Homo sapiens: one gene and its partners. The protein of the gene in region 1 interacts with the protein of each later gene in a pairwise test. Each region holds a gene or a part of one and is shown in the gene's direction. Other genes may lie near its edges. The genes, in order: RINT1, LMO2, KIAA1217 and FAM81B.

Region 1 (7,351 bases):
ATGGTATTTCCGCTCTTGGGCATCAGATATTGCTGAGTTATCATTGCAAAACAAAGCAAAGCAAATAGTAAGCACTTGGTATTTCTTTTCTTTTTTTTTTTTTGTGAGTTGGAGTCTCGCTCTGTCACCCAGGCTGGAGTGCAGTGGCACAATCTCTGCTCACTGCAACCTCCACCTCCCAGGTTCAAGCGATTCTCCTGCCTCAGCCTCCCAAGTAGCTGGGACTACAGGCACATGTCACCACACTGGACTAATTTTTGTAATTTTAGTAGAGATGGGTTTCACCATATTGGTCAGGCTGGTCTGGAACTCCTGACCTCAGGTGATCCACCTGACTTAGCCTCCCAAAGTGCTGGGATTACAGGAGTGAGCCACTGCGCCTGGCATGTACTTGGTATTTCTGCTCTTAAACCTGTATAAGACATGCGTAGTTTTTGTAATGCAGACTAGCAATTTTTTTTTTTTGGAACGAAGTTTCACTCTTGTTGCCCAGGCTGGAGCGCAATGGTGTGATCTCGGCTCACTGCAACCTCTGCCTCCCGCGTTCAAGCGATTCTCCTGCCTCAGCCTCTTGAGTAGCTGGGATTACAGGTGCCCACCACCACGCCCAGCTAATTTTTGTATATTTAGGTGAGACGGGGTTTCACCATGTTGACCAGTCTGGTCTTGAACTTCTGACCTCAGCTGATCCACCCACCTCGGCCTCCCAAAGTGCTGGGATTACAGGCATGAGCTGCCACGCCTGGCCAGCAATTTTTTTCTTGATTTACTTTTTGAAAATAAAAACCATAAGAAAATAATATTAAAATTATTTTCAAATGCTATTTCAAAAAATATAGGCCATCAGTTCTTTGTAATACTCATCATTTTACATATTATTGAAGTGCTAGGTTTTAAATATATATGGCATTGTAAATTTATGAGTTTATTGACTTAAGTCATATTATTGAAATTTGTTGGGAGTACATTAGCAAACATTTGATTATTAAGCCTTGCAGGAGTTTAAAATTTGGAGTAGAAATTGTGCTCTTACATACAGGAATTTTCAACTAATTTTTATAAGTGTTGTGCATATACAATTAAATAGAACCATGTAATTGTAACTTTCTAATTGGAATGACTTAAGAATTCAAACTATTTTCCTCCTTCCTTAGCCAGAATGGTACTTGGCTCAAGTACTTATGTGGATTGGAAACCATACTGAATTTCTGGATGAGAAGATTCAGCCAATATTAGACAAAGTAGGCTCTTTGGTAAACGCAAGGGTAAGAGACTCAGTCATAAGTGTTTCTGTTTTAGAACTGTATGTGTGCATGGATAACTTTTTATTTACATACCTCATGTTTGTGTATTTTTTTAGCTTGAATTTTCTCGGGGCCTTATGATGCTGGTTCTTGAGAAGTTAGCCACTGATATTCCTTGTCTGCTATATGATGACAATCTCTTCTGTCATTTGGTGGATGAAGTACTCTTGTTTGAAAGGGAGCTACACAGTGTTCATGGCTATCCTGGCACTTTTGCTAGTTGTATGCATATTCTATCAGAGGAAACCTGTTTTCAGAGATGGTTGACGGTGGAGAGAAAATGTAAGTGCTGATGTGGCCAGATGGTAGGGAGATATGTCTGTTTCTGTGGGTATACATTTTTGATATTTTTCTTCTCCAGTTCTAAATAGGAACTAGAGCCATTTGAAATTTCCTTTTCAGGGTTTTCTGTTTCCTTCAGAGATAATCTTTTCTTTACTTCACATGAAACTTCCATTTTTCCTGAAATTACACTCTACATATTTCTAGAGTGGAATAGTCAAGCCAGTGGGGTGTTTGTTTTATAGATTTTATCATATAATTTATTTTATTTTTATTTATTTATTTTGGGACAGACTCTTGCTCTGTTGTCCAGGCTAAAGTGCAGTAGTTTGATCTCAGCTCATTGCAACCTCCACCCCCTGCGTTCAAGCGATTCTCCTGTCTCAGCCTCCCGAGTAGTTAGGATTACAGGCACGCACTACCACGCCTGGCTAATTTTTCTGTTTTTAGGAGTGACAGGGTTACAACATGTTGGCCAGGCTGGTCTGGAACTCCTGACTTCAAGTAATCCACCTGCCTTGGCCTCCCAAAGTGTCAGAATATTTTATTTTTTTATTTTTGAGATAGGGTCTCACTTTGTCACCGAGGCTAGAGTGGAGTGGGCCGATCATGGCTTACTGCAGCCTCGACCTCTGGGGCTCAGGTGATCCTCCTGCCTCAGCCACCCCAGTAGCTGGGAGTATAGGTATATGCAAGCCATGCCTGGCTACTTTTTGTATTTTTTGTAGAGATGGGGTTTCCCTGGGGTTTTGCCCAAGCTGGTTGTGAACTCCTAGACTCAAGCAATCCACCCACCTTGGCCTCCTGGAGTGCTGGGATTACTGGTGTGAGCCACCGTGCCTGGCCAATAGAATATTTTTTACTGTAGCTTATCTAGTCAACATAACTATTTTCAGAATTTGGGGATGGGAGTAAAGTATCCTGTTTAAAGCATTAATTAAGTTAAATTTAGTACAACCAGTGGGATATTGTAGGTTTGTTTCTTTTTTATAGAAAAGCCATCATTCCTAAAAAATTACAAGTTGAATAATTAGGAACGACTGTAACTACTTAATTGACATAATTGTTTTGTCTGCTTATCAGTTGCTCTTCAAAAAATGGACTCAATGCTTTCCTCAGAAGCTGCCTGGGTATCGCAATATAAGGATATCACTGACGTGGATGAAATGAAAGTTCCAGATTGTGCAGAAACTTTTATGACTCTACTCTTGGTTATAACTGGTAAGTATGTCTTTTAAGATATGACTTTGTTTTAAAAGTACTGTTTTCACGTGGTAGTTTTTAAAGTAGCTCAGTAGGCTGGGTGCAGTGGCTCATGCCTGTAATCCTAGCACTTTGAGAGGCTGAGACGGGCAGGTTGCTTGAGCCCAGGAGTTCGAGAACAGCCTGGGGTACATGGTGAAATGCCCTCTCTTCCGAAAAAATACAGAAATTAGCCAGTTGTGGTGGTGTGTGCCTGTAGTCCCAGCTACTTGGGAGGCTGAGGTGGGAGGATTTTTTGAGCATGGGAGGTAGAGGTTGCAGTGAGCCATGATCACGCCACTGCAGTCCAGCCTTGGTGACAGAGTGAGACCCTGTCAATAAAGTAATCAATAAATAAGTGGCTCAGCAAATTAATATTATATGATGGTTGTTATCTTCAAATTCAGTTTCTATATTGGTAGAAATCTAACACAATATTCTAACTTTTGGGTTTTTAATAATTTAAGGATTTAAACATTGGTATACATGAAGGAAAACTTCCTGAATAATTACACAAAAACAATTAAATAGGAATTTAATTTTATTATCCAAACTGTCTTGCTATTGGGCTTTTTAGGTGTCTTCAGTAAATGGTGATTGGCCTATATTTTAAATATTGTCTTGATCTTGATTTATCAAAGATTGCAGAAGAGAGTAAAATAATGAAGTAATTTTAAGGATTGGAGTAGTAATAGGAACTTTTGTTACAGTGCAGGGATTCTCTGGCTGGAGGGTAGCCTAGCATCCTCTGGCCCTGGTTGGTCTTTAGCCAATCACGTTGCCCCCTTGTGGGCCTGCTTGTTGTCCAGGTGCCACTGGACCCTCATTGCCACCATCCCTGGCCCTCTTCACCTTCGTCAACCACTAGCCTGTCCGTTTCTTAGGCTTGTCTGGTAACCTGAAGAAGTATCATTCCAGCCCAGTCAGTAAATAATTCCTTTTTTTTTTTTTTTTTTTTTTTTTGAGATGGAGTCTCACTCTGTCACCCAGGCTGGAGTGCAGTGGCATGATCTCGGCTCACTGCAACCTCTGCTGCCCAGGATCAAGCAATTCTTTTGCCTCCGCCTCCCAAGTAGCTGGGATTATAGGCACCTGCTGCCACGCCCAGCTAATTTTTGAATTTTTAGTAGAGACGGGGTTTCACCATCTTAGCCAGGCTGGTCTTGAACTCCTGACCTTGTGATCCACCTGCCTCGGCCTCCCAAAGTGCTGGGATTACAGGCATGAGCCACCGTGCCCAGTCATCATTCCATATTTTTAACTATAAGAAAAATATGAAAAATACTAAGACAAAAAAATTAAGGAAAATTCATGTCTCTTAAAAACTTTTTATTCAGAAAATTTTCAAACATACACAAAAGTAGGATAATATGATGAACTCTCAGGTACCTATTGCCAAAGTTTAAAGCAATTATCACTTTTCTGTTATATTTTACTCCTCAATTTTTTTTTTCTGGAGTATTTCAAAGAAAATTTCAGACATCTCATCATGTCAATTGTAAATTCTTTTTTTTGAGACAGAATTTCGCTCTTGTCACCCAGGCTGGAGTGCAATGGCGCAATCTCGGCTTACTGCAACCTCCGCCTCCTGGGTCCAAGCAATTCTCCTACCTCAGCCTCCTGAGTAGCTGGGATTACAGATGCCTGCCACCATGCCTGGTTAATTTTTTTTTGTATTTTTACTAAAAATACAAAAATTTACAGGCAGTTGGCCAGGCACGGTGGCTCACACCTGTAATCCCAGCACTTTGGGAGGCTGAGGTGGGCAGGTCACGAGGTCAGGAGATCGAGACCATCCTGGCTAACACAGTGAAACCCCGTCTCTACTAAAAATACAAAAAAATTAGCCAGGCATGGTGGCGGCTCTACTAGAGATGGGGTTTCATATTGCCCAGACTGGTCTCGAACTCCTGACCTCAGGTGATCCACCTGCCTCGGCCTCCCAAAGTGCTGGGATTACAGGCGTGAGCCACCATGCCTGCCTGTAAATTGTCTTTTTTTTTTTTCTTTGAGACAGAGTCTCGCTCTGTCGCCCAGGCTGGAGTGCTGTGGCGCAATCTCGGCTCACTGCAAGCTCCACCTCCTGGGTTCACACCATTCTCCTACCTCAGCCTCCTGAGTAGCTGGAACTACAGGCACCCGTCACCATACCCAGCTAATTTTTTTTTTTTTTTTTTTTTTTTTTTTTGAGATGGAGTCTCACTCTGTCGCCCAGGCTGGAGTGCAGTGGCGCCATCTCAGCTCACCGCAAGCTCTGCCTCCCGGGTTCACGCCATTCTCCTGCCTCAGCCTCCCGAGTAGCTGGGACTACAGGCACCCGCCACCACACTCGGCTAATTTTTTGTATTTTTAGTAGAGATGGGGTTTCACCGTGTTAGCCAGGATGGTATTGATCTTCTGACCTCGTGATCCACCCGCCTCAGCCTCCCAAAGTGCTGGGATTACAGGCGTGAGCCACTGTGCCCGGCGAATTTTTTTGTATTTCTAGTAGAGACAGGGTTTCACTGTGTTAGCCAGGATGGTCTTGATCTCCTGACCTCGTGATCCACCCACCTCGGCCTCCCAAAGTGCTGAGATTACAGGTGTGAGCCACCGTGCCCGGCCAACTGCCTGTAAATTCTTAAATGTGTATCTTTTAATTTATTGAAGTTCTTTCTTTTTTAAAAAAATGCTGTTTATTTGTGTTGAAGAAACTGTCATTTTTTTTTCTTTCTTTTTTTTTTTTTGTTAGATGGAGTCTCACTCTGTTGCCTAGGCTGGAAAGCAGTGGTGCCATGTTGGCTCACTGCAACCTCCACCTCCCGGGTTCAAGCAATTCTCCTGCCTCAGACTCCCAAGTAGCTGGGATTACAGGCACACGCCACTACTGCCCGGCTAATTTTTGTAGTTTTGGTAGAGATGAGGTGTCACCATGTTGGCCAGGCTAGTCTTGAACTCCTGACCTCAGTTGATCCACCTGCCTTGGCCTCACAAAGTGCTGGGATTACAGGCGTGAGCCACCACGACTGGCCAAAACTGTCATTTTTATGTATAATTTTTTCATTTGCCTTTTTGAAAACTTGAGGTATAGTTTACATACAGTGTAATGTGCAGATCTTATTTGTATTGTTCAATGAGTTTTGGCAAATGTATATACTTTTGAAACTCACATCCTTAAGAGAGCTCAGAAATAAATCCATTCTTGACTACTGGTCAATTGATTTTTGACAAAAGCACTGAAGCAGGACAGTAGGGAAAACTTATAACTATATCATAGATGGTACCAAAACCTTCATATGTCTTAATAACTTTTTCCACAGACAGGTATAAAAATCTTCCCACAGCTTCCCGAAAGCTTCAGTTCCTGGAGTTACAGAAGGACTTAGTAGATGATTTTAGGATACGATTAACACAAGTGATGAAAGAAGAGACTAGAGCTTCCCTTGGCTTTCGATACTGTGCAATTCTTAATGCTGTGAACTACATCTCAACAGTACTAGCAGATTGGGCTGACAATGTTGTGAGTTAATATGCTTTTATATTAAGTAATATATACTAGTTCGAACTATTTTATTAATACTTTTCAAAATGTTGAATCTATTGCAAGCAAAAATAAACATGCTAGACAGAACCATAGTGCCATAATTAAAAGGTGTAATTAAAATACACATTTTTCTCAATCAAATCTCAAGTAGTTAAATAGTCCTGATATTTTAATGTATTTAATCATTGGAAAGGCAAGCAAGCCTTTCATGAAATAGTTGTTTATAGAGTGAACCATACTTGGAAATATTCATGTATGGTAATTGCAATCACAGGAAGAGCTAAGATTAAATAATGATGTCAAAAGCAATCCAGGACTTTAAGGAAAATAAAAGAATAATGTTTAATACCTCTTGAATGTCTTCAAAACATGACAGATTATAAAGAGTCATGAAAATAGGAAGAAACATTTAAAGTTTTAATTGTTTCATACATTAAAAATCTATTTGGCTGGGTGCAGTGGCTCATGCTCTTAATCCCAGCACTTTAGGAGGCTGAGATGGGAGAATTGCTTGAGCCCAGGAGTTGGAGACCAACCTGGGCAACATAGGGAGACCCCATTTCTCCAAAGAATAAAAAATAAAATAAAATTAGCCAGGTGTGGTGGCATATGCCTGTAGTCCGAGCTACTTGGGAGGCTGAGGTGGGAGGATCACTGGAGCCCAGAAATTCATGACCAGCTGTGCAACATAGTGAGACCCTGTCTCTACAAAAAATAAAAATAAGAAACTAACATTTCATGTATCAAATTTTCAAATATATGCAAGAGTAAATAGAATAGGAAAATGAACTTCTGTGGCGTGGCTATCACTCAACTTCTTTTTTTTTTTTTTGTGACAGAGTTTCGCTCTTGTTGCCCGGGCTGGAGTGCAATGGTGCGATCTCGGCTCACTGCAACCTCTGTCTCCTGGGTTCAAGGGATTATCCTGCCTCAGCCTCCTGAGTAGCTGGGATTACAGGCACCCGCCACCATGCCTGGCTAATTTTTTTTTTAGTAGTAG
Region 2 (7,351 bases), on another chromosome or scaffold:
TGCTTTAAAAGAATTGTGCTTTCCTGCTTGAAATACCGCACACACACACATACACCCTTCAATTTCGGCTTTCTATGGTGTTTATTTACCTGGGTTTTACCCTCAGTTACCAGCATAAAAGCTCAACATATTCTCATAAAACACAGGAAGTACCACCATCCAATGAGAATATAAACATCACTATTCAGTCTTGAAGGTTAAGACACCAGTTCTGTAATGAGCTAGGTTTGTTATAACAAAAACCCCCACTTCCTTCAACAAATTCTCAGGAGAAAAATAACATTCCTTTTTAAAAGTATGTTTATGCAAACAATGGGTTTAAAGGGTGGTTTGATCACTTTTTTAAAATAAACTTAAAACTGAGCTCTGAGTTTCAGAGACTGGGCAAGATCATAGTAACACAATAAGGGAGTGAATTGGATGAATTGGTGCCTCATGCCTTTTTGATCAGCAGAATTTAGTCACTAATCCTTTCAATAGAAGATTAATCTGAAGGTTTCATTTCCCTGAAGGAAGTTTGCTTCTTTCAAAGTTTGTGCTTTTTCACTGAGGTTAGAAACTGAAACATCCTAACTTCCTAATACAACAGATATCTACTGCTGGAGGCTCACCAGCTCCTTCCTTCACTTCACTATTTGCCCAACGAAGACAGATTCTGATCAAAGAGGGACAAGCCAGTTGAGAAATTGCTGCAGCACATTCTCCCCATGCCCTTAGAAATTGTTATGATTGTCCCAGAAATCCAGGCTTAAATGATACTCAGGTGTAATATTCAAGATAAGGGTCTGGGAGAATATAAAATATTAATTTGAGGGTGAATCAATCTAATTCAGTCATTGTCTTGGATTGTCCACTAAGTATAATGTGATATTATCATTAATTAAGTATAGAAAGACAGAGCCAATATCTTATACTTTACTTCTCCATCTCATCTCAGGCCATCACCGTAACTCTTTTACTTTACATTCCTCCTGTTGTCCAGTATCCTACTAGATGCTTCATTGTGTACTTCCTCAAATCCAGCTTGGGTCATTACAATCAGCATCTCCAAATTACAGATGGAGACTTGCCTAGCTATATGCAAATGAAACATTTGGACAGAAAGCCAGCCAGAATTCATGAACACAGATTCCCTTGCTGTGCTACTGGTGGCCCCCACTGCCTCCCCTGTGAGTAACAAGAGCAGTTCATTTGAATTCCAGGCAGTTTTGCACCAGCTAAGGGCAAATTCTCTTCTTTCACAGTCCTTTGGCAGCATCAACATCGGGACATCCAATGTGCGTCCAGGTTCCATGAGTGGTTTTGAAAGCCCAGAGTAAGACCATGGGCTGTGGAAAGAGAAGAGATGCAACTCTGAGTTGATACACATGAAAAAGCTAGGGTATTAGTTATTAGAAGGGGAAATGGCAGTCCTTATATACAATCTGTAGAAACAAAGGAAAGAAAGCAAGGCTTCAGTGAATGAAACCTCGTCTCTACTTAAAATAAAAAAAATTAGCTGGGCCTGGTGGTGGACACCTGTAATCCCAGCTATTCGGGAGGCTGAAGCGGGAGAATCACTTGAACCCAGGAGGTGGAGGTTGCAGTGAGCCGAGATTGTGCCATTGCACTCCAGCCTGGGCAATAAGAGTGAAACTGTGTCTCAAAACAAACAAACAAAAAACTATAGTTTTGAATTTTTTTGAGCTAGGGTCTCACTGTGTTGTCTAGTCTAGAGTGCAGTGCTCACTGCAGCCTCAACTTCCTGGGCTCAGATGATCCTCCCACCTCAGCCTCCTGGGTAGCTGGGACTACTGGCTCATGCCACCAAGCCTGGGCAATTTTTTATATGTTTTGTAGAAACAGGATTTTGCCACGTTGCCCAGGCTGGCCTCAAACTCCTGGGCTCAAGTGATCCTCCTGCCTTGGCCTCCCAAAGTGCTGGGATTACAAGCGTGAGCCACTGTACCTGGCCATTTTTTTTCCCCAGATAAACTAACTTGAGCTTCCCATTTTCTTGTTCCAAAGATGATAGTCTCATGAAGTGCTGTTACACTGTGTCTAGAAAGTGTGGGCATGGCTTTAGCACTCCTAAATATTCATAAGGAACACTTCATACTTCACATGACGGGATCACCTGAAGTTGTCAGAGTGTTATAGACATTGAGCCACCTAGCCTCCTGTCCCCAAGTATAATGGCTGCTGGGCTTTATGGGCACAGACCAATTAGGACACAAGGTCGCCTGGTAAGTTAGTACCAGTTAGAAATAGGAGACATGGATTTATACCTGCAGGGTACCCAGGAGGAAACTCCCTTTGGGAATTTTACAGATGGAAGAAGGTCTGTTTTTTGAAACATAATAGATTTTTAAGAAATAGATTTGTGTTTAAGTAAGGTTCCAGAGAACACTTGCTAATTATTATAAATCAACACGTATTAAGTGTTTGCTGTGTCCCATGTGGGGGACACTAGAATAATTCCTTCCACTCCTTTATTTTCTTTTAGCAAAGTTATTTATTTTTAAATGTAAAAATGTATTCAGATTCCAGTGAAGCAAAGTGAACAGGAGATGCTATGCATGGCGTATTAACGAAAGAACACGTGTCACAGCCTATTAACAATTGCTGGATTGAGATGTCAGTGTCTGTTTAATTGCCTTCCACTCTCTTTGAAATAATCATTGCCCCCACTTCATTTTCTTCCTCAAATCAACTTTATCCAAATCAATTTTACTCTTATAAAAATGTTCAGGTAAGGAAAGAAAGGCCTATTTGATGTCCTTCGTGTAACAATGGCCTTACGATATGGGATTTTCCTCCAAGTATTCCTTCAGTAGGAAGAATGGAAAATGGAATTTCTGTAAAAAAGTAAAATTAGGAGAATTCCTATTATGTCCTGATGGAATTTTGATTTTGGAAAGAGAAAGCAACCTAAAATAATTTTTGGTCTCATTCTTCTTTCTTCCTCACCTCTGCTTTTGTGCAGTTGGTTAGGGCTGGAGGGAGGATGGCACTGGGGATTTGCAGATTCTTAGCACTCTGGGTCATCTGCTGCCCTGGCAGTGAGCGACTCTTTTAGTCCAGAGTGCGTCCTTTGAGGTTAGGCAGTGCCCTTGGGTGTCCAGGTTATGGGAGGAGGAAAATGAGGGAGATCTGTGAAGATAGAGTCAGCGGGGAGAGTGGGAAAAAGCAGAAGGAGACCAGAGGTGCCCAGGTAGTGCTGGGCATGGGCAGGGGCACAGTGCCACCTGCAATTGCCTTTGATGCCTCTTGGTGCCCTGTGTTTACTTCTTAGACATCTAGGGAGTAAGGTCTGGCTCTTTCCCGTCTTAACCCAAGGTTGGTTGGGACTCTGCAGTCTGGCCAAGGGATGTGTTGTCCTGTCCCTTCTCCCTTAGGTCACTGAAAGGCAGTCAGGTGAGATGCCCTGTCTGGCCCAAAACGATCTCGGACCCTCGGTGCTGGTCTCACTCTGGTGAGGCTGTCCCTGATGCTTGGCCTTCTCTCCAGGGAACCAGTGGATGAGGTGCTGCAGATCCCCCCATCCCTGCTGACATGCGGCGGCTGCCAGCAGAACATTGGGGACCGCTACTTCCTGAAGGCCATCGACCAGTACTGGCACGAGGACTGCCTGAGCTGCGACCTCTGTGGCTGCCGGCTGGGTGAGGTGGGGCGGCGCCTCTACTACAAACTGGGCCGGAAGCTCTGCCGGAGAGACTATCTCAGGTACCCTCCCCGGCACTCCACTGGGCCCTCGGAAGGGAGGCTGGGTGGTCCATGGACATCTGCAGTCGGTGTGTGTTGCCCCTTACCCTGCTCCAGGCTCGGACACCACCTATAGAAAGAGGTCAGACTGCAGAGGCTGAGTCTCAGCTCCTGTGCTGAGAAGCAGAGGGCATTTCTTCCTGTTTGAGAAGCATGTTCTCAGGGTTACGTTCCTATGTGGTAAAATACTAATATCTTTAAAGGCAAGAGAATTGTATACCCAAAATTCAGAAAAGTGCTTCCCTTGGGGAGCGGGAGAAGCTAGGGGATGGGATTGAGGAGGAGTACACACGGAGGATCAGAGGGACTGGGAGTGTTTCTAAGTTTGGAGGTGGGCTCTGAGGACCTCATTTGAATGCTTCAGAACATATATGTATGTTATAAATTTTTTTTGTATGACTCCAGTATTATATGATGAGAAATTTAAAAATAGAAAGCATATGGAGCTCCAAGCATTGACTCATAGCAGGAAGGCAGTCTTCGAAGAGCAGAAAGGCAAAGGCCCTGTAGGCAGTTGGAGGTTTGAGTCCCAATACCATTGCTTCCCAGCTTGGTGGCCTTGGGCAAGTTATTTAACCTTCCTAAGCCTCGATTTCCTTATCTGTAAAATGGGGATGATAATAGCACCTACCTCTAAGGATGTGGGGAGGATTTGATGGAATAATGCAGATAAACTACTTGGCTTGGTATGGATCAAATAGATGTTAGCTGCTCTTACATAATCATTATTTTCCAATCTAATGAGCAAAGGGATGGAAGAATGGAAGAGTAAAATAGGAACTCGACAACACCAAGTAAGACAGGAGCTGAGGACATCTCCCATGCTCTGGGCCATCCTATTGGCCATCCGAATTTTCCAGCACTGTGTGAAAGCCTTTGCCTAGAATGTACTAGTGTTTCTAGTTTCCGATGAGCTGCTGTGGAGGTAACTGTCTCTGTGCCCTCTACTGTCAGATCTGCTCAACTGTGTAGCTGTCAGTATTTCTCCGTTTTCCTGGAGCAGAGGGTCTGTGAAGCATGCTTCCCTGATACACCAGGACCATCCAACCCATGGAAGCTTGTTGAGACCTCAGCGCCCTTGGCTGCTGGGCCAGCTTTTCCTCCCAAACCTGCCCTCAGAGCATTTTACATTATAGAAACAAAACAAAACCAAAAAAACTGCAGGCAGTTTCACAGTGAAGGAAGCTTTACCTAAAGACTGTTAGAAGAAGCTTTTTGTCCTTGAATTCCCAGATAAAGTTCTTGCAGTCCTTGCAGATATGGTGGTTCCGAGAAAATAAGTAGGATTTTGCAATGATCATGCTTATAATTTTGGTCAGTTTTCTTTTTTTTAAGTCACAGAAAATAGAACTTGGATAAATACAGACCTGGTTTTGCTCACTCCCAGTTTGCCAAGTCAGTGAGAGGGCAGACGGGTAAATGATTCCCATCGGACCCTTGACTCCATCCCTGTCAAATCATTTGAATCTTATTAACTGAAGTGCAGATAGAGTAAGGTCAGAAGAGCCCCAGCTTCTCCCTATCTCTACCGTTTTATATAACATTCAGGAATAAAACCAGTGCTGCCTGGGCTTGTTAATCCTTTCCATTTTCAAAAAGGAGAGGAAAAAAAAAACAGTCTGGGAGAACCCAATGTTAATTAACTTGTGTCTTGGTGACATGAAATAATTCTTCTCCCTGCCACATTCCTAGGCAACATGTTAATTAACTCTGCATTAGTGCAGGCATTTCCAGCCATTCTTTAATATTTATATTATTGTTATTAAAATGGGCAGCAGAGAGCTTAAGATGGGACATCTCTTGACAGAGGAGAAAAATTGTCTTTTGCGTCAGGGATGGTCCTTTAGCCAAGGTCTTGTTTACTGGCATTCTTAGTATATCTGGCAGGATCTTTTAACAAGGCAAGTTGGAGGAGTAACTGAACGGGCCCTCTAATGTGTTTGAGTTCTTCACCCCTAGGATAACTTGTCCCCGTGAGGATTTCCAATGGCTGAGTTGCCTGTTACAGTTCTTTTCCGACATTTAGCTTCAAACATTCATGAGACCCCCATGCAGAACCTCAACTCTGCTGCTGTGTTGTATTGTTGGGAACCCAAGAGCAGCTGTTCATGTCTGTGCTGAGCCAGATCTCCTTGGATCCCTTTTCACTAATTCTTGTGTGCTGGGAGTGGTGGGGTGGCGGTGATGGCAGTGGTTTTGCTTTTAACAGCCAGCACCTGAATCTGTTAGAGCCAGAAGTATGCCTGCCCCAACTAGACCCCCAACGGACCTTAACCAGTGACAGACATGGTGGGAGTACCAAGCCCCGCAGCCTTGCCTGGAGCCAGGCATAACTTATATTCCAGGGTCCCTCCCCTCTGAGGGACTTTGCCTGAGGATACAACTTGGCTTGGCTTCCTCCCCTTCCCTCCAGCCTCCCCTGCTGCCTTCCAGGTTTTTCCTGAGAATGCCTCATTCATAAATCACTGGCACATCAATCCTTGCCTCAGGGGCTGCTTCTGGGATATCCAGCCTAAGATACCAATTCTTGGTGCCAGAGGTTAATGCTCAAGTTAGGTGTCAAGTCCCGGCTTATTTTTTACTAATATTAGAATCTCCGAATCCCAGAGCTGGAAGGGGCTACAGAGACCTTCTTTTTCAGTTCCCTTGCTTTATGGCTTAAGTCACAGAAGCCTGTACAGGGGACTCCATTTGCTCAGGTCACCTGGCAAGTTAGAGGTCATGCTGGGACCTGAACTTGTCTCCCACATATTCGTCCTTTGTCCTTCCCTTCATAGCTGCCTGATGTGGGTTGTAATTTACCCCCTGACTTCCCTTTAATAAGCTCCCTCCTTCCTTAAGGATCGCACACCCCAGGCAGTTGGATTCATTCCATGCACACTGTTTTCTCAGTCGTTCATCCTTGCTCAGGCCCAAACTTAACTTACAGAGCAGTCAGGAAACCAGAACTGTCTTTCCACTCTGTGACCTCCAATGTGGCGGTTACCTGCAGCTCCACCATCTGCTACGTTGGGATAAAATGTTCTCCCCCCAGTAATGAGTTTGCTCCCAGGCGGTGCTTTGAAAACACTCAGAGATCTTCAAATGGAAAGCAGGATTCAGAGGCAAATTAGCTGGCCCTGGCCCGAACAATGAGCTCTCCACTCACAGACCACCTCTTGTCAATTCCATTAATCTCGCCCAAATATTGCAAAATGTGTCAACTGCCCTTAGGTCCCCTACAACCTCTCAGAATGTACCCACTGATTCTCTGATATCCTGAAATCAACCAGAACTTCCAATAAGAGCAAGCATTCACCTAAAACTGTCCTAAAGGTTTTATGTAGAAACCACCTGCTAACATGCTATGTTTTCAGCCACGAGTGAAAATTACTTCCTGCAGCAAGACTGGCACAGCTGGGAATACACCCAAGATGTGTTAAAACATAACCAGCGTTGGCTTAGCCCTTGACCATGGGTGCCCTGACATGCTTCGTTTGGTTGTTTTAACAGCTGAGTGAGGTGGAGCCTATGATGGCTGCCATTTCACTGAGGCTCAGAGAATCAGAGGTCTCTCCAGGGTCACTCAGGGCTGGTCCGGGACATTGAAGCTGGGTCTTCTCTGCTT
Region 3 (7,351 bases), on another chromosome or scaffold:
CACCCTCCCACCTATCCCTCCTTCTGTCCCTCTGTTGGCATCAGCACCACTGAATAAAAAGACTCGGTCCTCTGTTAGCCAGGCACAATCGTCCCTTTGGCCAATGTAGAACATTCCCTGGAAAACCCTCCTTGTACCTGCCTCACACCACTGCAAAATGTTCCCAGCCACTGTTAAAAGATGAGCGACCCCCCTCCACCACCACCACACGAAAGGCAGGGGGGAGGAGCTGGGGCTCTACACAAAATCAGAGGCTGAGACGGGCACTCGGCCCCTCCTCTTCCTCTGTGAGGCCTCGTGTTCAGCTCTATGTGCTGGTGTCCTTGCTCCCGCAGCGAGTTGGAAGACTTTGTTGAAGACTTGAAGAAGGACTCCACGGCAGCCAGCCGATTGGTTACTCTGAAAGACGTGGAAGACGGGGCTTTCCTCCTGCGTCAAGTGGGAGAGGCTGTAGCTACCCTGAAAGGTAAACTTTCTGCTGGGTCGGGGGAGGAGTCTGAGCTGTCTTTCCTGCGGTGTTTAAAAATCTGCCACATAGAGGATTCATTCATGTATGCAAGTATTTATTAAACGTCTACATGTGCCAGGCATTGTTCTGGACACTTGGGATACCCCACAGCACAAAGTAGGTGCACATCCCCCTCTTCTTGGAGCTGGTATTAGAGTGGGTGCTGTAAGATTTCACACTAAATGATTCCAGTAACACTTTCTATTTGCTAGGCTCTTACAGTGCACCGGGATGCATGTGCCAAACCCGTTAAAAACACAAGGTGGGAGGATCACTTGATCCCAGGAGTTCAAGACCAGCCTGGGCAATATAGAGAGACTCACATCTCTACCAAAAAAAAAAAAAAAAAAAAAAAAATATATATATATATATATATATATACACACACACACAAAAAAAAATTAGCCAGGTGTGGTGGTGCATGCCTGTGGTACCAGCTACTTAGGAGGCTGAGGTGGTAGGATCTCTTGAGCCTGTGAGGTCAAGGCTATGGTGAGCCACCATTGCACCACTGCACTCCAGCCTGGCAGCCTGGGTGGCAGAGTGAGACCCTGTCTCCAAAAAATAAAAATAAAAAACAAAAAATAAAAAATTAAATTAAATTAAAAACCTGTAACCAGGCACGGTGGCTCACGCCTGCAATCCTAGCACTTTGGGAGGCCAAGGCAGGAAAATCGCCTGAGGCCAGGAGTTCAAGACCAGCCTAGGAAACATAACAAAACCCCATCTCTAAAAAAAAAAAAAAAGTTTTTTTTTTTTTTTTTTTCTGGCCAGGCGTAGTGGCTCATGCCACTTTGGGAGGCTGAGGCGGGCAGATCACTTGAGGTCAGGAGTTCGAAACCAGCCTAGCCAACAGAGTAAAACCCTGTCTGTACTAAAAATACAAAAATTAGCTGGGCATGGTGGCACAAACCTGTAGTCCCAGCTACTCAGCTGAGGCAGGAGAATTACTTGAACCCAGGAGGCGGAGGTTACAGTAAGCCAAGATCATGCCACTGCACTCCAGCCTGGGTGACAGAGGGAGACTCCATCTCAAAAAAAGAAAAAAAAAGTTGAATTAGCTGGGCATGGTGGTGTGCAGCACCTAAATAGTCCCAGCTATCCAGGAAGCTGAGGCAGGAGGATCGCTTGAGCCCAGGTGTTTGAGGCTCCAGTGAGCTCTGATCATGCCACTGCACTCCAGCCTGGATGACAGAGTGAGACCCTGTCAGCCAGTCAAATTAAAAAGTAATAATAATAACCCTAATGGTCAATTGGCTTTATCCCAAATACACAGACAGGAAACAGGCCTAGAGGAGCTTTACCCTTGCCCAAGGTGAGTTTCTCCAATGCTCCTCTGTGCTCTTAACCCACTGCCACCTGAAGATGTGTGAGCCACCCTGTGGCTTGTGAACTCTGCACTTCTCTGTCCAGTATCGGAGTGCGGGATGAGGGTTGTCGTTCTGGCTTTTTCTCCTCCAATTCACCTGCTGGTTTGGGCCTGCAGGAGAATTTCCAACCTTACAAAACAAGATGCGAGCCATCCTGCGCATAGAAGTGGAGGCCGTGCGGTTTCTGAAGGAGGAGCCACACAAGCTGGACAGTCTCCTGAAGCGTGTGCGCAGCATGACAGACGTCCTGACCATGCTGCGGAGGTGACCGGGCCCTCATCGTGCTGGGGGTGGCCTGCGGAGGGGTGCACTGGGAAACCGAGAGTGGACGTTTGGGACTTCAGCCTTCCACCATGCTCCCAGGACACATCCAGTGTCCTGAGGAAAAGCCCCAAGTCCTTCTCACCCTTGAACTTTTATTGCAATATGGCTTGAGGTTCTAATTCTTCAACACAGGATTGCTAGGTGGAGCCCATCCTAGGGTTTAAAATTAATAGACACAGTAAACATTGTTTTAAAATCATCTGAAAGGCCAGGTGTGGTGGCCACTCAGGAGGTACAGGCAGAAGGATCCCTTGAGCCCAGGAGTATGAGGCTGCAGTGAGCTATGACTGAGCCACTGCACTCCAGCCTGGGCAACAGAGAAAGACTCCATTTCTTTTAAAAAAATCATCGGAAGGTGGGTTTTTTAAAATAACATTTTGAAGTTGAAAAATTGATTGAAATAGTTTATTAGCCTCCTTCACTTCAGGGGCATAGATGAATTCAGTTCAAAGAAATGTAATAGAAGTAAACAAAGTCTTTCTTAAATGACCTCCTGAAGGAGTATCTGTGAGACTGTTGGTCCCACCTAGAAAAGAGGAACAAAGCATTTTGAGTGGCCTGGGCCAGGCTTCCTTACCAAAGGTAAACCTGCTCACCGAAGAGGTCACAGTGGAGTAAAGACCAAAAGACATTCAGGAATTTCACTGCAAAGAAAATTCCAGGACTCCACACTCACTGAAAACACATATGCATGCAAAATTTGTGTTGCCAGAAGTACCTTCACTGGCCAGGCACAGTGGCTCACACCTGTCATCCCCGCACTTTGGGAGCTGAGGTGGGTGGATCACTTGAGGTCAGGAGTTGGAGACTAGCCTGGCCAACATAGTGAATTCCCATAGGTATTACAGGCGGTGGCGTGCCTGTAATCCCAGCTACTTGGGAGGCTGAGGGAGGAGAATTACTTGAACCCAGGAGGTGGAGGCTACAGTGAGCCGAGGTTGTGCCACTGCACTCCAGCCTGGGAGACAGAGCATGAAGTCAGCTTCATGGAGATGATTATTGAAAATGGGAAAGATCACTGGGTGCAGTGGCACGTGCTCGTAATCCCAGCTACTCAGGAGGCTGAGATGGGAGGATCACTTAGGCCAGGAGTTCAAGGCTGCAGTGAGCTATGATCACACCACTGCACTCCAGCCTGGGTGACAGAGCAAGACCCCATCTCTACAAAAAATTATTTTAAAAATTAGCCAGGAAGGGTGGTATACACCTGTAGTCCCAGCTACTTAGGAGGCTGAGGCAGGAAGATCTCTTGAACGTAAGAGTTTGAGGCTGCAGTGGGCTAGGATTGAGCCACTGCACTCCAGCCTGGGCAACAGAGCGAGGCCCTGTTTCTTAAAAGAAAAGAAAATGGAAGAGATGGTTGAGGCAGAATGATAGGGAAAGGAGAGAACAAATCCTTGGGGATCTCTAAGAATCTAAGGGATTGGGGTAAAAAAAGAAACAGCAAAAGAAAGAGCACTGAGTAGCAGAAGAGTTATAGAATGCAATGTCTTTTTTCAAATAAAAAAAAGTAACATAATAAAAAGGGGATGAGGGACTAACTAAAAATTAGAGGTCAAGTACCATGTTTGACATTGCCTCACACATAACTTTACAATGTTAATGTTAGTCCTAACGACAGGTCCTGAGGAAGTCATTATCATCACCATCGTCATCCCCATCTTCATCACTCCATTTTATGCAAAAGCACCTGAGGCTTAAAGAGGCGAAGTTCTCAACGTTATATAAAGCATGAACTAACTGCTATTCAAACACAGATCTGACACCAGACACTCTGTCTTTTCCACTACATCATGGGTGGGGAGGGACATATAGCTTCAAATGACTCCAAACACCAGAGGAAGTTGAGGAATAAACACGACCGTTAGATTTCGAGTCACTGTGTACCTTGTGGCAAGACTTCGTTGAATCCAGGTGGGGAAGCCAGTGAGCAACAGGTTGAGATACAGAAGAGCAAACAGAAGGAATTAGAATGTGGGCGGCCCACCCAAGATGCTTGGCAGTGAAAGGAGGAGGGAATAAGCAAACTTTTGGCTTAGAACTAAGCATATTTGAGGGCTGCATAGGCCAGAATCAGGCGGAGGAGTTAGAGAGGCTGCTGTTAGACTCATGATTCATTTTCTTCTACCCACCCCCCAAACAATGATGGAGTTGCAAGGGTCTGAGCACAACTGCACCAGCAGAAAGGGATATGTCTATACATGTCCCTAAGCGGCTACTCTGAGCTTTGGGATGTGTGACTCTCACCTGGCTTTGGGATGACATAGCCTGCAAGTATACCACCATGAGAAAGTGACATGAGGGTTAATGCCGCTGTGCATGGTTTCTCCTAGACATGTCACTGATGGGCTCCTGAAAGGCACGGACGCAGCCCAAGCCGCACAGTACATGGCTATGGAAAAGGCCACAGCCGCAGAAGTCCTGAAGAGTCAGGAGGAGGCAGCCCACACCTCCGGCCAGCCCTTCCACAGCACAGGTGCCCCTGGCGATGCGAAGTCGGAAGTGGTGCCTTTGTCCGGCATGATGGTTCGCCACGCGCAGAGCTCCCCTGTGGTCATCCAGCCCTCCCAGCACTCCGTGGCCCTGCTGAACCCTGCTCAGAACTTGCCTCACGTGGCCAGCTCCCCAGCCGTCCCCCAGGAAGCAACCTCCACTCTGCAGATGTCGCAGGCTCCGCAGTCCCCACAGATACCCATGAATGGGTCTGCCATGCAGAGCTTGTTCATTGAAGAAATCCACAGTGTGAGTGCCAAGAACAGGGCAGTGTCTATCGAGGTAGAGTCCTATTTCTGTTTCTCATAACCCCATAAAGGAGTCTGATACATGGACCTTTCCCTTAAAGCATTTATAGGTCAGATGATGACATGATTGTGTATGGATCAGAGACAGGGTTTTGGAAGTGGAAGTGGGATTCAGTGGCCAGGTTAAGAGATAGGTCATGTGGTTTCAGAGAAGGGTGAGACACCTGGCCTGTAGGAAGGTGAGACACCTGGCCTGTAGGAAGGTGAGACACCTGGCCTGTAGGAAGGTGAGACAGCAGTGTGCTGGTAAATGTTTAACAACCAGCTCTCTGGTAGCGGTTGTGGCGGCGGGGTGGGGGGGCAGAGTGGGTGCGTGCAGATCTGTGTGTGGCATTTGCCAATTTCCATGGTGTAAATATCGCAACCATGGCTGATTTCAAGTTATGACATGACACCACTACTGCTGAAGTTGGGAGAAATGTAACAATCAGCTCTCCTGGGCCAGGACAAGCCGGCTTCAAGCACTCCACTGAGGTGAAGGCAGCCTGGGGAGGGTCTGCCACACATCTAGATGATAAGTGGAACCTGGTTAGCATGGGAGGGTGGTGAGGGCATCCTAGGATACTAAAATGCTGGATCAAAGTCTGGGACCATGACTAAGCCTGTCTAAGTGGAACAAGAACGAGGACCTAAGACTGGGGAAATGGGCTGGAAACTGACTTGAGTGCTTGAAAAACAGTCCATGATGTTTGGAGTTTATTTGGAAGGTATCAGAGAAATGCTGCAGCTCTAATCCGTGATTTTTTTTAAATGGCATCTTCTGGAAATTAATCTAGAAACAACGTACAGAATTGATTGAGGTGGTGGGTCTAGAATTAAGAGAGCTGGATGAGAAATTACTATAGTCATCTAAGAATGAACGGTAGAGCAGTCAGAATGAAAAGAGAAAACTAGGTCTTAAGACCAAATGACATGAGGCCATGTGTGGTGGCTCACACCTGTAATACCAGCACTTTGGGAGGCCGAGGCGGGTCGATCACTGGAACATGAGTGCAAGACTAGCCTGGGCAACATGACAAAGTCCCAACTCTACCAAAAAAAATACAAAAATTAGCTGGGCATGGTGGCGCGTGCCTGTAGCCCCAGCTACTCAGGGGGTTGAGGTGGGTGGATCACCCAGGCCCAGGGAGGTCAAGGCTTCAGTGAGCCAAGATCACGCCACTGCACTCTAGCCTGGGCGACAGAGTGAGACCCTGTCTTAAAAATCATAAGATCAAATGACATATTATGTTTTTAAATATTCTTTTTATCAAGGGCTGGTACCAGTGCTCCGATAACACATTTGTCTTTTCTACTTCTTTTTTCTTCTTGCCTCGTAACTTTTCCTCCACTCATTTGCTTTATCACCCAACAACCTTGTCGTAACCCTCCTGCCTCTACTGAAAGTCACCAGTGGAGAGGTCAGGTTGGGTATATCGAGACGACCTGGCAAAACTGCCACAGCCACGGTCGCAGCCTCGGGGCCTCTGAACACTAGGTGGTTTCTCTGTGTCGCAAGGGCCCTGGCTTGCCTCTAATCAGAGCCAGCTATTTTAAAAACGCATATCACAAGGGTACAGAAATGTGATTGACAGAGTGTGATTCTATTCCCAGTACCTAGTAGGGCAGGGGAGGGAAAGACATTTCCTCCTAAGAATTGGCAGATCCGTCACTTAAGACGTCTTGCCACTTTAAACATCTCAACATTTAAAGGATGTCAGTATGATGGCACTCTTATTTAACAAATCTCTGTTGAGAACCTAGTGGGCATAGTTATCATTGTGATGTGTGTATTTTACGCTTTGAGAGGAGACACGAGTCATCTCTGAAAATGCCCTGATCCACAGGTATGGAGGCCTGGGTTTTTCTGCCAGCTCTGCCACTGACAAATGGGGTGAGCTTTATTCATTCAACAGAGATTACTGAGCCTGTTATGTACCAGGCCCTCGTAGGCTCGGGGGAAAGCCAGTGAACAGAAGAGACAAAGTCTCTGCCCTCAAGACACTTACCTACTTGTAGGAAGAGACAGAAAAAAAGTATATGCCAGGTGGTAATAAATGCTAGGAAGAAAAAATAAAGGAGGGTTAGAATGGTGAAGGTGGTGGCTATTATTTATATGTAATGAAACTTGGGCAAATTCTCCATCTCGCTGGACCTCAAAGTTCCCATATGTTGATTCAATGATCTTTGCCAATTCTTAGGTTATAAGGTTCCACTAATCTTGGTGTGAATTTCCACTCTGCCCCCTTAGAATTATTAATGTGCTGGTTCAAAAGTCACAGAAAACATTCTTTTAAAAAGTATGCAGATGTTTTAAAATGCATTTTATGTATAACTCTCTGTTGTGGAACTTAAAGGAGTTTACAGGT
Region 4 (7,986 bases), on another chromosome or scaffold:
AAGAACAAAGCTGGGGACACTACAGTATCTGACTTCAAAATATACTACAAAGCTATAGTAGCTAAAATAACATGGTATTGGTATAAAAACAGACACATAAGCCAATGGAACAAAAATAAATTCACACATTTACAGCCAGCTGATTATTGACAAAGGTGCCAAGCACAATATAATGGTAAAAGGATACTCTCTTCAATAAATGGTGCTGGGAAAATGGAATATCCATATGCAGAAGAACAAAACTAGAACACTATCCATCACTATATTTAAAAATCTACTCAAAACAAGTTAAAGACTTAAATGTAAGACTTGAAAGTATAAAACTACTAGAAGAAAACATAGGGGAAACACTTCAGGACATTAGGCAAAGATTTTAAAGACTTCAAAAGCACAGGCAATGGAAACAAAAATAGACAAATAGGACTATATTTAACTCAAAAACTTCTTCACAGCAAAGAAAACTATCAAAGGGTAAAAAGACAACTATTAGAATGAGAAAATATATTGGCAAATTATTCATCTGACAAGGGATTAATATCCAGAACATATAAGGAACTCAAACAGCTCAACAGCAGCAAATCATCTGACTAAAAAGTAGGCAAAGCGCCGGGTGCAGTGGCTCATACCTGTAATCTCAATACTTTGGGAGGCCGAGGCAGGCAGATCACCCAAGGTCAAGAGTTCAAGACTAGCCTGGCCAATATGGTGAAACCCCATCTCTACCAAAAATACAAAAATTAGCCAGGCGTGGTGGCACACGCCTGTACTTCCAGCTACTAGGGAGGCTGAGGCAGGAGAATCACTTGAACGCAGGATGCAGAGGTTGCAGTGAACTGAGATCACACCACTGCACTCCAGCCTAGGCAACAGAATGAAACTCCATGCCAAAAAAAAAAAAAAAAAAAAAGACATTTCTCAAAAGAAGACATACAAATGGCCAAAAGAAATATGAAAAAATGCTCAAATGCTCAACATCACTAATCATAAGGGAAATACAAATTAAAACCACAATGAGATACCACCTCACCCCAGTTAGGATGCCTATTATCAAAAAGACAAAAGTTAACAAATGCTGGTGAGGATGCAGAGAAAAGAGAGCACTTATGCACTGTTGGTGGGCATGTGAATGAGTACAGTCAATATGGAAATCACTGTAGAGGCTTCTCAAAAAACTAAACATAGAACTAACATATGATCCAGCAGTCCCACTACTGGAAAGGAAATCAGTATATCAAAGGGACACCTAGATTCCCATGTTTGTTGCAGTGCTATTCACAATAGCTAAGATATGGTTTCAACCTAAATGTCCATCAATAGATGAATGGATAAAGAAAATGTGGTTTATATACCCAATGGAATACTATTTAGCTATACAAAGGAATGAAATCCTGTCATTTGCAGCAATGTGGATGAGGCTGGAGGACATTATGTTAAGCAAAATAAGCCAAAAACAGAAAGATAAATACTGCATGTTGTTACTTACATGTGGCAGAAAAAAAAAATTGAGTTCATGGAAATAAAGAATAGAAACGTGAGGCTGGGAAGGGTAAGGGGAGGAGAGAATGAGGAGAGTGTGTTAATGAAAACAAAATTACAGCTAGATAGGAGAAATGGATTCTGATGTTCTGCAGCACTGTAGGGTGAAAATGGTGAACTATAATTTACTGTATATTTTCAAAAAGCTGGAAGAGAGGATTTTGAATATTCACAACACAAAAAAATGATAAATGATTGAGGTGATGATATGCTAATTACCCTGATTTGGTTGTTACACATTGTATACGTGTATCTAAATATCACTCTGTAGCCCATAAATATGTACAGTTATGTGTCAACTAAAAATTTTAAAAAATGATAACAAGTATACTGTAGTAAATACATAAACCAGTAACATAGTTGTTTATGATCATTAGCAACTATTATGTACTGTACAGCATTGCATGTGCTATACCTTTATACAACTGGCAGTTCAGCAAGTTTGTTTACACCAGTATCACCACAAACACATGAGTAATGCATTGCACTGCAATGTTATGATGGCTACAACATCACTAGATAATAGGAATTTTTCCACTCCACTAAAATCTTATGGGACCACCATCATATATGCAGTTGGTCATTGACAGTGCCTCACTGTACACTCCTTGTGTGAGTTAAAAATAGGTGCCGCTTTCTCAAAACCCTTTACTTCCATGTCAGAAAATTATCCTGACTTTCTTTGGTAAAATGAGATATTTTCTTGATATATGCCTGAAAAATTACTGTAACAAATATGAAAATCTACAGTGTTACCATGAGTGCCCCAGAGGGTTGTGTAGTGCACAACACATAGCGTTTCTGTCTGATGACCTTCAACACTGACTATCCCCCATCACTGACCACCATGTCAGGATTATGTCTTTAGATCTATATTAAATATACTATAGTATAAGGCCACTTTAAAGATTGAAATTGAACATTTTTAATTTCTGTGCTTTTATTAGCCCTAGATTAGAAAAGATATATGAAGATTATTGACTTCTGAGAAGGATTTTACATATGCATTTTAGACAAGTGGGAAGCTATTTGAGTCCATCTTCTTCTGCTATAACAGAATACCATAGTCTGGGGCCTGGAATGGTGGCTCACACCAGTAATCCCAGCACTTTGGGAGGCTGAGATGGGTGGATCACTTGAGGTCAGGAGTTTGAGACCAGCCTGGCCAACATGGTGAAACTCCGTCTCCACTAAAAATACAAAAATTAGTCAGATATGGCAGTGCACACCTGTAGTCCCAGCTACTCAGGAGGCTAAGGCATGAGAATTGCTTGAACTTTGGAGGCAGAGGTTGCAGTGAGCCAAGATCGCACCACTGCACTCCAGGCTGGGCAACAGAGCAAGACTCTGTCTAAAAAAAGAATACCATAGTCTGGGCATTTATTTGGCTCATGGTTCCAGAGGCTGGGAAGTCCAAGATTGAGAGGATACATCTTTATATTACATCATAACATAGCAAGAAGGGAAATAAGAATGCAAGACAGAAAGAGATAAACTAAGCCAAACTCATCCTTTCTATCAGGAGCCCACTCCTATGATAACTAACTCATTCCCACAATAAGGGCTTTAATTCATTCATTAGGAGAGAGCCCTCATGACCTAATCACTTCTTAAAGCCTCCACTTCCTAATACTATTAGAATGGCAATAGGCCAGGCACGGTGGCTCACGCCTGTAATCCCAGCACTTTGGGAGGCCGAGGTGGGCAGATCACGAGGTCAGGAAATCGAGACCATCCTGGCTAACACGATGAAACCCTGTCTCTACTAAAAATACAAAAAATTAGCCGAGTGTGGTGGTGGGCACCTGTAGTCCCAGCTATTTGGGAGGCTGAGGCAGGAGAATGGCATGAATCTGGGAGGCCAAGCTTACAGTGAGCCAAGATCGCACTATTGCACTCCAGCCTGGGTGACAGTGCAAGACTACAACTCAAAAAAAAAAAAAAAAGAATGGCAATTACATTTCAACATGAGTTTTGGTGGAGAGATTCAAACCAGAGCAGACATTAATAATATACATATATATTATGTGCATTGTTATGTTAAAATTGAATAGCCATTTATGTTTAGAGAACAAACCTACCAAAATTGTCCATTTTAGTAGGGCCCATTTTTCTAACCAAATACCATGGATTAAAAGCTGAATTTAAGAAGAGAAAGAATCTTAAAAAGTTGTTAAGCAAGGTTAAATCTAGTTTTTCTTTCTCACACAGACTCTGCTTGTGACTGTTTCTTGGATAATTGGCACCTTGTGAAATAATCGCTAATAATAGTTATCTTTTAGTGGATTCCTGGCACCGCCCTCAGCTGAGCGCTGTAAGTATATTATTACATTTAATCCTCTCAACCATCTTATGGGATCGATATTATTAGCTCATTTCACAGAGGAGAAAGTTGAGGCTTAAAGAGGTGATGTAATTTTGTCCAAACTAAACAGCTGGTAGGTTGAGGAGTCAGGGTTCCAATCCACTCTCTCAGAATCTGTAGCCACCTGCTCTTAGTCACTGCTGTGTGTCAGTCTCCCTTGGCACTAGATACAATGGTGATTAGGGTAGCATAATGAGCCTTTTGGACTGCTTGCAAACCATGAACTACTGCATCTTTGAGTTTTAAGGGCTTAGCTTAGGACTAGGGGATATGCATGGAAGCCCAAATCATAGGTGTCCTTTATCTGTGGGATCAAAGTTTGTCACTCAGCATCCTGAACATTGTGTGCCTTTAAACAAGGCAAATCTGATACCATAATTTGGACAACAACTTAGCCAAAGCATCATTTCTGTATATGGAGGCCAAGTAGTACTAACAAACATGCAAATTCTAATTTTAAAACTCAGACAAACATTTTACAGCTAAAACAATCCACCCCCTTTTGGCTAAATAACTGAACAAAATTTCCCCTACAAAGGCAAAGTTCAATATTTTCATTTCTGTAAAACTCTGACCCATGTCACTTTTCATCAGTGCTGCACTATCTGTGAAGTCCCCTTCTAACCTAGAAGAGTTAGCTTCCTCCCTAACATACTTGGAGAAAGATTTGGGCATACCGCAGCATTTCATTTCCTCTTTGTCTAGCTTGATGATAACTCGTCACTTTTCAAACTGTGAAGATGAAATCAGGAGAAGAGTGTGAAATATCAGTATAACAATGGCCACTTCCCACCCCATGAGACAAAGAAGTGAAAGGCTTAGTGATTTGTATGATGATGAGCACTACAGAAAACATTCAAAGCTTCTAAATCCCAGGGATTTCCTGACTTCAGTTGTGAGGGCCAGCCACACTGACATCATAGATCCTTCCTGCAGTCACAATGCTACTAAGTCACCCTTGGGAAGAGGCCCCAGAAACAGGAAGACCTTAGTTAGGATGCAATTACAATTCCTTGGTACATTGGCTTCCTCAGAAAAAAGAAAAAAATCACAGAGATTGTTTTTCAAAAATATCAAATCTACAAAAAATAAAGCTGGAAAAGCAAGCATCATGAGTTCAGGTACTTATGGACTATTCGAGGTCTCTAAATTTCTCCTACTTCACTATCTTTCTTCTGTTTCTTATTACATATAAACAAAATAATGAATCCCAATGAAGACCCTCAGAAGGCTTGGGCACAACAGAGTAATAACTTAAACAAATGTACAAGAAAAAAAAACCCCATCAAAAAGTGGGCAAAGGATGTGAACAGACACTTCTCAAAAGAAGACATTTATGCAGCCAAAACATACGAGAAAAAGCTCATCATCACTTGTCATTACAGAAATGCAAATCAAAACTACAATGAGATACCATCTCATGCCAGTTAGAATAGTAACCATTAAAAAGTCAGGAAACAACAGATGCTGGGGAGGATGTGGAGAAATAGGAACGCTTTTATACTGTTGGTGGGAGTGTAAATTAGTTCAACCATGTGGAAGACAGTGAGGTGATTCCTCAAGGATCTAGAACTAGAAATACCATTTGATCCAGCAATCCCATTAATGGGTATATACCCAAAGGACTATAAATCATTCTACTATAAAGACACATGCACACGTATGTTTATTGCAGCACTGTTCACAATAGCAAAGACTTGGAACCAACCCAAATGCCCATCAATGATAGACTGGATAAAGAAAATGCCGCACATATACACCATGGAATACTATGCAGCCATAAAAAAGGATGAGTTCATGTCCCTTTGCAGGGACATGGATGAAGCTGGAAACCATCATTCTCAGCAAACTAACACAGGAACGGAAAACCAAACACCACATGTTCTCACTCACAAGTGGGAGTTGAACAATGAGAACACATGGACACAGGGAGGGGAACATCACACACTGGGGCCTGTTGGGGGTTGGGGGCTAGAGGAGGAATAGTATTAGGAGAAATACCTAATGTAGATGATGGGCTGATGGGTGCAGCAAACCACCATGGCACGTGTATACCTACGTAACAAACCTGCATGTTCTGCACGTGTATCCCAGGACTTAAAGTATAATTTAAAAAAAATACATTCCTGATTATTTTAGAGCTGTCTGATCCTAAAAAAGTTTCTAAAGGTCTTATAGAAGTATCTGTAAAGAAATGCTCTTCTAGCTAACTATAGATGTTATGGGGGGATGGGGGAGAATTGGGATAAGTGAGGAGAGGGGAAATGTAAAGCAAATTGAAAGCCTCCCTTTAAGCCAAGCTATATGTACAGAAACTGCCCTCAATTAAAAAAAAATTAGCAGCACTGCAAAAATTCACTTGTCATAGTTCCTGACCTGATTCAGCATTCTGGTTACCTAGATACAAATGTAAACAAAAGTGCCTCTCCAACTGCGACTGCAGAGGAACAGCCAGTTGAACCTGATGGCCCCCTTCCTGGCTCAGACAATAACCAAGAAAAGAAAGCAAGTACTTTTCAATATTCACATTAAAAGTAGAATACTTTGCTCAGCTTCTTTAAAGTTTAGAGTGCTTAGAGAGTTTAAGAAGTTCTGGAAGAATAGTTCTCCCACATTTCCTGTTTGTTCTGTCTTGGCAAAATGGCTGCTGAAAACACAAGCTGAAAAGAAAAATGACCTCAATTTACAATTTCATTAATTAGACTGATTTTTAATATATGGGGCTAAAATTCTTTTAAGTTGATCATTATGTATGTTTTATGATGATTCAAAAGGAACCATGATAAACTCAAGGTGCAGACTTTATCTTTATCTCTAACATGAAAACCGGTATAGCTAAATAGAATGTTTCCTTTATTAGAACTTGTCGTATCTTCTCCGTTAAAAAGAACATTTTTTAAAGCAGTGTTTTTAGACTTTTTTTGCACTTCTCTTAACACCTTGTAATTTACATAACAAGAGGCAGATGCAGTCACTTGTTACATAAAGCACTAGCACAATATCAAACATTGATTTTTGGTATGTATTATATAATAGGCTGTACCACATACTAGCTGTGGGACTTTGGAATGATTACTTAACCTCTGTTTCTTCTTCTGTAAAATGGGTGAATTAGGCTTATCATACAAAGTTATTGTGGGTTTGAATGAGTCACTTAAGTAAGTGCTTAGCAAGTAGGAAGGGCTACAGTATGATTATCATCATCATCTACATGATCTTGGGCAAGTCCCGTACTTCTCTGATCCTGAAGCTCCTCACCTATAAAAAATAGTCATCTTAATTTCTTTCCATAATAAGGGTTTCAGCTTCTTAAGGTAACTAATGTCATCCTTACACTAATGGGAAGGTAATGATATCCACTTTATAGGGCATTCATGTCAAATAAAATTATGTCATATACAAGAACGTATTTCATAGCCCATAAAACCAAAAAGCTATAACATTCAAAGCATTATTATGAAATGGATAAAACTGATATATGTAAAAAAATTCCCATAGTGGCCATCAAGTTGTTTGTGAGACAGTTTTTATATATAATAACATCCTAGCTTATAGGAATGAGGATAAAACAGAACTGACTCTTATGTTCAATTAGCAAAGATATAAAAATTTAAATACTGTCTTAGATACCTAAAAATTACATTTAAAAAATTGCACCAAAAGCCAACATCAGTGGCTTTTGTTCTAGGTAGCAAAATTACAAGCGAGAATTTTTATTCTGTATCTTTAACTTTTCTATACTTTTCCAAATATTCCTCCATTGTTATGCTTAACATTTGTCACTTAAATAGTGTGTGTTGTAGGTGTGTTTTTAAGAAGATGCTACTTGTGGTCTTTCAAGTAAGACTTAAAAATTAATAAAATAAAAATAAAACATAGATCTAATTGTTACACTTCAGAAGGAGAAAGGAGGACAAGTTAGTGCCCTTGGACACTGTATTCATCATACACTTTAATTCCACAAATACTTGGAGAGGACTACTCTCCAAACATATAAGGAGGGACCAACCGGTTGCTGAGGAAATGCCAAAAATAGATCCCCACACAGACCAGAGGGAGCAGTGGAAAGGTGAGGAGGAAAGAAC

The links.
Region 2: the proteins of RINT1 (region 1) and LMO2 interact in binary tests that used the Homo sapiens proteins (3 or more experiments, as listed by UniProt).
Region 3: the proteins of RINT1 (region 1) and KIAA1217 interact in binary tests that used the Homo sapiens proteins (3 or more experiments, as listed by UniProt).
Region 4: the proteins of RINT1 (region 1) and FAM81B interact in binary tests that used the Homo sapiens proteins (3 or more experiments, as listed by UniProt).

Annotation. Positions count from the first base shown.
Region 1 is NC_000007.14:105,548,901-105,556,251, forward strand, and holds part of RINT1 (RAD50-interacting protein 1), read left to right. Parts: exon of another isoform or gene 1-67; intron 68-1,154; coding exon 1,155-1,265; intron 1,266-1,360; coding exon 1,361-1,586; intron 1,587-2,669; coding exon 2,670-2,807; intron 2,808-6,127; coding exon 6,128-6,327; intron 6,328-7,351. UniProt on the Homo sapiens protein: Involved in regulation of membrane traffic between the Golgi and the endoplasmic reticulum (ER); the function is proposed to depend on its association in the NRZ complex which is believed to play a role in SNARE assembly at the ER.
Region 2 is NC_000011.10:33,860,956-33,868,306, reverse strand, and holds part of LMO2 (rhombotin-2), read left to right. Parts: intron 1-3,489; coding exon 3,490-3,705; intron 3,706-7,351. UniProt on the Homo sapiens protein: Acts with TAL1/SCL to regulate red blood cell development. Also acts with LDB1 to maintain erythroid precursors in an immature state.
Region 3 is NC_000010.11:24,519,788-24,527,138, forward strand, and holds part of KIAA1217 (sickle tail protein homolog), read left to right. Parts: intron 1-335; coding exon 336-466; intron 467-1,994; coding exon 1,995-2,142; intron 2,143-4,535; coding exon 4,536-4,977; intron 4,978-5,684; exon of another isoform or gene 5,685-5,775; intron 5,776-6,991; exon of another isoform or gene 6,992-7,029; intron 7,030-7,351. UniProt on the Homo sapiens protein: Required for normal development of intervertebral disks.
Region 4 is NC_000005.10:95,386,492-95,394,477, forward strand, and holds the start of FAM81B (protein FAM81B), read left to right. Parts: upstream 1-4,874; 5' UTR 4,875-4,898; coding exon 4,899-5,022; intron 5,023-6,302; coding exon 6,303-6,406; intron 6,407-7,986.